Regions from separate parts of the Homo sapiens genome. Here region 1 is linked to region 2. The links come from fine-mapping of genetic effects on gene expression. A gene starts in region 2. The other region holds a variant in brackets. All regions are shown on one strand. Distances are between the middles of the regions. Region 1 has its middle 31 kb from the start of PABPC4-AS1. Region 2 holds the start of OXCT2 (3-oxoacid CoA-transferase 2).

Evidence for each region.
Region 1: its variant is fine-mapped to the expression of OXCT2 in spinal cord (GTEx, PIP 0.90).

What each region holds. Positions count from the first base shown.
Region 1 is chr1:39,531,743-39,536,133 of GRCh38, forward strand. It overlaps the pseudogene PPIEL. Among named protein-coding and RNA genes, the nearest start is that of PABPC4-AS1, 31 kb to the right of the region's middle. The variant AG/A (reference allele first, on the strand shown) is at 1,904.
Region 2 is chr1:39,769,478-39,773,868 of GRCh38, forward strand. It overlaps OXCT2 (3-oxoacid CoA-transferase 2), which reads right to left and starts at 1,871. Exons shown (of 1, transcript NM_022120.2): 1 at 46-1,871. The coding sequence starts at 1,778. The coding sequence ends at 225. The region is part of intron 3 of BMP8B (bone morphogenetic protein 8b); the gene reads right to left. RefSeq lists enhancers at 1,244-1,917, 1,918-2,590 and a silencer at 1,804-1,903.

The DNA of each region.
Region 1 (4,391 bases), 240 kb before region 2:
ATAGGGCACCCTCGGTGCTGCCTCCTCTGAGGCTGGCAGCTCCTTCCTGGATGTGCAGGGGCAAGAGCAGAGTGGAGAGCAGAGAGAGTGCCGCCTCACACATACTCCCCACAGTTGCCAATGATCACCTTCTGCCTTGGCTTCCCATCCTTGCCTTTGCAGACAGAATAGAAGAGGGGACACTCAGGGGAGTGAAGGAGCAGAATAAAGACAGACTTTAGGGACATCCACCCCTACCTGCCCCCTGGGGACACTGGCCCTAACAGTGGTGGAGCTCACAATCTAGTGAAATACAGCCACCCAAAAAAGATGTGGATTCATCTCAGGAATGCAAAGTTGGTTTAACATCTAAAAATCAATCAATGTAATAGACAATTATCAATAGTATAAAGAACAAAAACCACATAATCATCTCAGATACAGAAAAAGCAGTAGACAAAATCCAACACCTTTTCATAATGAAAACTCAATAAACTAGGAGTGGAAGGGGGAACTTTCTCAATCTGATAAAAGGTATCAACAGAAAACTACATGTGAAAGACAAGATGCTTTCCCCCTAAGGTCAGGAACAAGACGAGGATATCTGCCCTTGACACTTCTATTCAACATTGTACTGAAGGTTCTAGCCAGGGTAATTAGGTGAAAAAAATGAAATGAAAGGCATCCAATCGGCAAGGAAAATGTAAAGCTATTTCTATTTGCAGATGACACACTCTTGCATATAGAAAATCCTAAAAAATCCACAAAAAAAACTATTAGAACTAATAAACAGGCCGGGCATGGTGGCTCACGCCTGTAACCCCAGCACTTTGGGAGGCCAAGGTGCGCGGATCACAAGGTCAGGAAATTGAGACCATCCTGGCTAACACGGTGAAACCCCATCTCTACTAAAAATACAAAAAATTAGCCAGGCGTGGTGGCGGGCGCCTGTAGTCCCAGCTACTCAGGAGGCTGAGGCAGGAAAATGGCGTGAACCTGGGAGGTGGAGGTTGCAGTGAGCTGAGATCGTGCCACCGCACTCCAGCCTGGGCGACAGAGTGAGACTCCATCTCAAAAAAAGAAAAAAAAAAGAACTATTAAACAAGTTTAGCAATGTTGCAGAATACAAAATCAATATACAATTGATTATATATATTTTTGTAGAGATGAGGTCTCATTATGTTGACTCGGGCTGGTCTCAGACTCCTGGACTCAAGTGATTTTCCCACTTCAGTCTCCCAACGTGCTGGGATTATGAGTGTGAACCACCATGCCTGGCCTGTTTTGTGGTTTTCAAAGTATAAGCTGTATACATCTTTTAAACTTATTCCTAAATATTTTATTCTTTTTTATGCTATTGTAAGTATAATTGTTTTTCTTTTTATTCTGTTTTCAGGTTGTTCATTGCTGATGTATAGAAATATAATTGCTATATCTACGGCCAGGCACGGTGGCTCACACCCGTAATCCCAACACTTTGGGAGGCCGAGGCGGGCAGATCACAAGGTCAGGAGATCGAGACCATCCTGGCTAACATGGTGAAACCCTATCTCTACTAAAAATACAAAAAATTAGCTCGGCGTGGTGGCGGGCGCCTGTAGTCCCAGCTACTCAGGAGGCTGAGGCAGGAGAATGGCGTGGACCCGGGAGGTGGAGCTTGCAGTGAGCTGAGATGCTGCCACTGCACTCCAGCCTGGGCGACATAGCAAGACTCTGTCTCAAAAATAAGAAAAGAAATATAATTGCTATATATATATGTGTGTGTATTTTTTTTAGAAGAGTCTTGCTCTGTTGTCCAGGCTGGAGTGCAATGGTGCAGTCACAGCTGTCTACAAAAATATTTTTTAAAATTAGCCAGGTGTGGTGGTGTGTGCCTATAGTTCCAACTAGTTGTAAAGCTGAAACATAAGGACCACTTGGGTAC[AG/A]GAGTTCCAAGACTGTGGTGAGCTGTGATTGCACCACTGCACTCCAGCCTGGGCAATACAGTGAGACCCTGTCTAAAAAAAAAAAAAAAAGAATGAGAGAAACTATTTGCAAATTATACATCTGATAAGAGACCTGTATCTAAAATATTTAAAGAATTCTGACTCGCTAGGCATGGTGGCTTACATCTATAATCCCAGCATTTTGGGAGGACAAGGTGGCAGGATTGCTTGAGCCCTGGAGTTCGAGACCAGCCTAGATAACATAGCAAGACCCCATCCCAATTAAAAAAAAAAAAAAAAGAAAACCAAAGAACATTACTGAAAAACACTGAAGAAGACCTAAACAAATGAAAAGATATCCTGTGTTCATGGATCAGAAGACTTAATATTGTTAAGATGATGATACTCCTAAATTCTTCACATTCAGTGCAATCTGTATTAAAATCCTAGCTGGCTTTTTTCATACGAGTTGATAAGCTTATCCCAAAATTCTTAAGAAATGTAAGAGACTCAGGATAACCAAAACAATCTTGAAAGGAAAAACAAAGTTGGAGGACTCGCATTTCCAGAATTAAAAATTTACTACAAAGCTATGGAATTTAAGACACAGTAGTAATGGCCTAATAACAGACATACAGATCAACAAAATATAATTTAGAATCCAGAAGAAACCCTTACATTTATGGTCAACTATATTCACCAAGGATACCAAGACAATTAAACAGGAAAAAAACTAGCCTTTTCAACAAATGGTGCTAGGACGACTGAAAATCCACATGTAAAAGAGTAACGCTGGACCACTTTCCTCACACTATACACAAAAATTAACTTCAAATGGAGTAAAGACTTCAGTGTAAGAGAGAAAACCATAAAATACTTAATAGAAAGTGTAGGAGTAAATCTTCATAATCACTACACCAAAAGTACAAGTGACAAAAAAAGATAAATTAGACTTTATCAAAATTAAAATATTTTGTGCTTCAAACGACGCCATCAAAAAAGTGAAAAGACAACCTATAGAATGAAAGAAAAGGCCGGGCGCAGTGGCTCACGCCTGTAATCCCAGTACTTTGGGAGGCTGAGGCGGGTGGATCACTTGAGGCTAGGAGTTTGGGACCAGCCTGGGGAACGAAGTGAGAGCCCCATCTCTACAAAAAATAAGAAAAAATTAGCCAGGCATTGTGGTGCATGCCTGTAGTTCCAGCTACTTAGGAGTCTGAGACAGAGGGATCACTTGAGCCCAGGAATTTGAGGCCACAGCAAGCTGTGACTGTGCCACTGCACTCCAGTCTGGTCAACAGAGCAAGACCCCGTCACTACAAAAATAAAAAAAGAAGGACTCTTGACTATATTTGGTCAGGTGTGGTGACTCATGCCTATAATCCCAGCACTTTGAGAAGTGAAGGCAGGCGGATCACTTGAGGCAAGCCTGGGCAACACAGGGAGACCCTGTCTCTACAAAAAATAAAATTAGCTGGGCCTGGTGGCATGCACCTGTAGTCCCAGCTACTTGAAAGGCTGAGACAGGTGGATCACTTGGGCCCAGAGGGTCAAGGCTGCAGTGAGCTGTGATCACATCACTGCACTCCAGGCTGGGTGACAGAGTGAGAACCTGTCTCAAAAAACAAAAAACAAAAGAATTCTTACTCAACAATAGAAAGACAAATAATCCAATTAAAAATTGGTAAAGGGTCTGAAGAGACATTTTTCCAAAGAAGATATAGAGAAGGCCAATAAACACATGAAAAGATGCTCAACATCATTAACTAGCACGGAAATGCCAATCAAAACCACAATGAGATACCACTTCACATCACTAGGATAGGTCTAATAAAAAAAGAAGGATAATCACAAGTGTTGGTGAGGGTATAGAGGCATCAGAAACATCATACACTGCCGTTAAGAATGCAAAATGGGGCAGTGGCTCATGCCTGTAATCCCAGCACGTTGGGAGGCCAAGGCGGGCGGATCACAAGGTCAGGAGATCAAGACCATCCTGGCTAACACGGTGAAACCATGTCTCTACTAAAAATACAAAAAAATTAGCCAGGCGTGGTGGTAGGCGCCTGTAGTCCCAGCTACTCGGGAGGCTGAGGCAGGAGAATGGCGTGAACCCGGGAGGCGGAGCTTGCAGTGGGCTGAGATTGCGCCACTGCACTCCAGCCTGGGCAACAGAGTGAGACTCCATCTCAAAAAAAAAAAAAGAATGCAAAATGGTACAGCCACTTCAAACAGTCTGGTCGTTTCTCAAAACATTAAAAATAGTTATCAGCCAGACACGGTGGCTCATGCCTGTAATCTCAGCACTTTGTGCAGATCACTTGAGGCCAGGAATTCGAGACCAGCTGGCCATCATGGCAAAGCTCCGTCTCTACTAAAAATACAAAAATTAGCCGAGTATGGAGGTGCATGCCTGTAATCCTAGCTAGGGGAGGCTGAGGCAGGAGAATCTCTTGAACCAGGGAGGTGGAGGTTGCAGTGAGCCGA
Region 2 (4,391 bases):
CAGACCTGCGCCTTGCAGTGCTCGAGAAACACAGTGAGGAACTGATCTGTTTTCCTGTTGTTTTTAATTAAAGTCGCAGCTCTCTAGAGGAGCACTGTCCACCTAGGGAGGAAAGTAGGAGGCCAGTAGCAAACCCCTCCCAGAGCTGGGGACATGTATTCCCCTGGGGAACCCGGTGGCACCCGCCCTGAGGAGCGCACCACCCCGCCCAGATCCAGGTCCCGTCAGGGTGCCACCTGCTGCATGGGCCTGAGGTTCGGGGACACAGCAAAGGCACACCCCGTGCTCTTTTTGATGTCGTCCACCGTCAGGCCCTCCCAGAGCTCCCTCAGCGTCAGCTCTTTCTTCCTGTGCACGTCAAACACGGCCTTCTCGGTGATGATGCGGTCCACGCACCGCTTCCCGGTCAGCGGCATGGTGCATTTCTCCATGATCTTGGGGGTGTTGTCCTTTGTGCAGTGCTGCATGGTGACCACCACTCTGGTCTTCTGACTGGACACCAAGTCCATGGCACCGCCCATGCCTTTCACCTTCTTGCCAGGGATCATCCAGTTCGCCAGGTCGCCGTATTTGGAAACCTGCATGGCTCCAAGCATGGTTAGTTGGATGTGTCCCCCTCGGATCATGGCGAAGGAGTCGTCGCTGGCGAAGAAGCAGCCCCCGGGAAGCACCGTGACCGTCTGCTTGCCTGCATTGATGAGGTCGGCATCCACCTCATCTTCCGTGGGAAACGGGCCCAGGCCCAGGATCCCGTTCTCACTGTGAAGATGGACAGTCATGCTGGGACTGATGAAGTTGCTGGCCAGCAGGGGGATGCCTATGCCCAGATTGGCGTACATGCCGTCCTCAAATTCCAGAGCTGCGCGTCTGATGATGCGCGTCCTGGCGTCCTCTTCCTTTCCAGCGTCTCCATCTTCCTCTTTCAGGATCGTTAAGCGCTCAATTCGTTTCTCGTATTTCTGCCCCTTTATCACGCGATCTACATAAATGTTAGGAACGTGGATGTCTTCTGGGGGGAAAGCCCCCACCTCCACGATCTCTTCCACCTCCACCGCCGTGACGTCTGCAGCTTTGCACATGGGCACGTTGAAATTGCGGGCGCTTCTCCTGAAGACCACGTTTCCTGCCCGGTCGGCCTTCCACCCTTTCACCAGGGCGAAGTCTGCCCGGATGGCGCGCTCCAAAAGGAAGTGGTCGCCGTTGAACTCCCTCACCTCTCGGGGCTGGCTCATGAGCGCCAGGTGGCCGTCCGGGGTGTAGCGGATGGGGGCGCCCCCTTCCTGGACCAGGGTCCCGTAGCCCGTGGGGGTGTAGAAGGCGGGCACCCCGGCGCCCCCCGCGCGGATGCGCTCGGCCAGGGTGCCCTGGGGCGTGAGCTCCAGCTCCAGCTCTCCTGCCAGGTACTGGCTCTCGCACAGGGTGTTCTCGCCCACGTAGGAACAGACGATGCGACGGACCTGCCTGGCGGCCAGCAGGAGGCCCAGGCCGAAGTCCTCCACGCCCACGTTGCTGCTGACCACCTGCAGGTCTTTCACGCGGGTCCTGAGCAGCGCGGCGATCAGGTTCTCGGGGATCCCGCAGAGCCCGAAGCCCCCGATCATGACGGTCGCCCCGTCAGAGATGTCCTTCACCATCTCCACCGGGTCCGCGTAGAACTTGGCACGGAGCCGGGGACTGGTGGCAAAGCAGCGGGCGCAGCCCTGGGACAGCGCGAGCCCTGAGCCGCCGGCGGGGACCCCGCGCCCGAGCACTGACGCCAGGAGCCGCAGCGCCGCCATAGTCGGCCCGGGTCGGAGGCCAGGACAGGTGGTGTGAGCCCTGCGTGCGCCTCGGGCCGCGCGTCACAGAGCAGGGCGGGCGCCCGCGCCCTGACGCACTCCCTCCCAGCAGGTCTCCCCGGCCAGGCGCAGGCTCTAGGCTAGGCCCGCGACCCGCAACAGGGAGGGGGCCGGCTCCGCCCTGGGCTGGGGGCCCCCGAGTCAGTCCTCCGTGTCCAGCGCACAGGCCCGGGCGCAGGACAGAGCTGAGGTCAGGCTCCGCGAGAAGGGCACAGGCTAGGTCCCCTCCTGCCCCAGTGGAGCCTCAGACACAAACTCCAACCACCCCGCCCAAGCTTCCCCCCAGCTTCCCCAGCTCATTAAAGACACCAAGTGTCCAATGAGCAGGCGCCGCTGGGTGACACCGACGCTCATGAACACCTTCACTGGGCATCACTCTGTGCCAAGCACCCTCCTTTAATCCTGTGACAACCCGGAGAGTGAGTGCCTGCCCCACTACAGCCTCCCAGAGCTCAGGTTCACCCCTCACTGCGACAGTGGGGACAGTATCCCTCACCTCCATCAGGAAGGGTCCCTGCTCTGAAGAGGCCCCCCGTCTTGTCCTCTGCATCCCCCCGCCCTCTCCACCTCCCCCACTCCAGCTCCCTGCTCCAACTTGTGCGGAATTTTGCAGTTTTCTTCCCTCTGCACAGAATCACTGCATCACCACAGCAGCGTGCAGGCGTCTCCTCACCTGGAAAGGACCTGCCTTGTCCCGGGTTCTCTCCAGCCCCAGCCCATGTCTCTGCTCCCCTTCCCCAGCAAAGGTTCTGGAAAGAGCTGTCTCCTGCCTCCACTGCCTGTCTCCCTCCACCTCCTCAGTCAGACCCACACTCCACGGATATTTAGGTCATCAACAACCTCTGTGATGGCAAAACCCTTGGTCACTTCTCTGTTCTTGCCTTCAGTGCCCACAGCAGGACACAAATGACAAACCCTTGCTTCTGGAAACACTTTACTCTGGCGTCTAGATCACCTCATCCTCCAGGTGTCCTGCTCCCTCCCTGGCTGGTCTCTGTGGGCTCTCTGTGGCCCCTCCTTGTGAGGTCTCTGGATGTTGGAGGTCCCAGGGCTCTGGGCCAGGCCCTCTTTCTTCTCCATCACTACCCTCCTTCCCTAGATGACCTGGTCCCATCCCATGCTTTAAATCCACTTACATGCCAGCACCTCCCTCGCCTGGGTCTTCACACTCACCGGTCCCTGTAATGGCATTTCCATGAGGACCAGTGATCTCAGTAACATCCCAGGGGGGTCAGTAATATTCCAGCCAAAAGAGAACCCTTGGCCACCCACCTCAAACCTGCCCTTCATCTATCTTTTCCCCAAAAAGAAAAATCTATTGAAAAAAATCCACTGGCTCCAACCACACATCATTCAGGCTTCCTCCTGTTCCCTCACCTCCTCGCCAGCTATAAGCATGTCCTGACACTGAAATCGACTCATCTTTCTCCATCTCCACTGCTACCAACAAGTCGCTCACAGCGCCCACCTGGACCACTGTGGGGCCCCCACACGTCTCTCTGACTTCACTCTTGTCCATCTCAGTCTGCTCTCTCCACTGAAGTCAGGGGGTTCTTTATTTTATGCATATATTAAGTTTTAATTTTACAACAGTTGATAGTTACATAAAACTTTGTAAAGATAGTACAGAGGCTAAGGTGGGAGGATCGCTCGCGCCCAGGAGTTGGAGGTTACCGTCAGCTGTGATTGCGCCACTGCACTCCAGCCTGAGCAACAGAGCCAAACCCTGTCTCAAAGAAAAAAAAACTACACAAGGAGTTCCCATACACCTGGACCCAGTTTCCTCTGGGAAATGCTAATATTTTACACTAGCAGGGTACCTTTCTCATAACTAATGAACCAATACTGATACCTTATTATTAAGTAAACACCATGATCGATCTGGATTTCATAACTTCTCCCTAATGACCTTTTGCTGGTCCAGGACTCAACCCAGGACCCCACATGCACTGAGCTGGTCTTCTTAGGTGCCTCTGGGCTCCTCCAATTTCCCAACCTTCCCTTTTTTTTGATGAGCTTGGCGGTTTTGAGAAGCGCTTGTCAGGTATTCTGCGGAAAGCCCTTCTCTTTGGGTTTGTTTGACGGTTTTCTCGTGGCTGGACTGGGGTTTTGGGTTCACGGAGGGGGCCCTCTGAGGCTCAGTGGCCTTCTCCTTCCCTTTCACCCAGGGCACATGCTAGCACCGTGCCGGTCACTGCAGTGAGCCTTCCTCACCTGGCTGAGGCGCTGCGCGTCAGGTCCCCCACGCCCTGTCCACACCGCACTTTCGGGAAGCAAGTCACTGGGTGCAGCCCACGGAAGGGGTGGGGAGCTCTGCTCCACCCCGAGAGGGGGGCATCTCAGAGGGTTCTCTTTTAAAACCTGAATCAGATCCTGTCGTCCTCCACTGCTAGTAAATAAAATAAATGACGCTAAGAACCCCAGCACCTGGCCCTGGTTTACTCTGACTCAGAATGGCCCCTGGGTCCCCCGCCCTCACCGCTGCTCCATGGCGCCCCCTTGCCGGGCCTCAAACACACCCATCTCGTGCCCACTTTGGCCTCTGTATTCCTA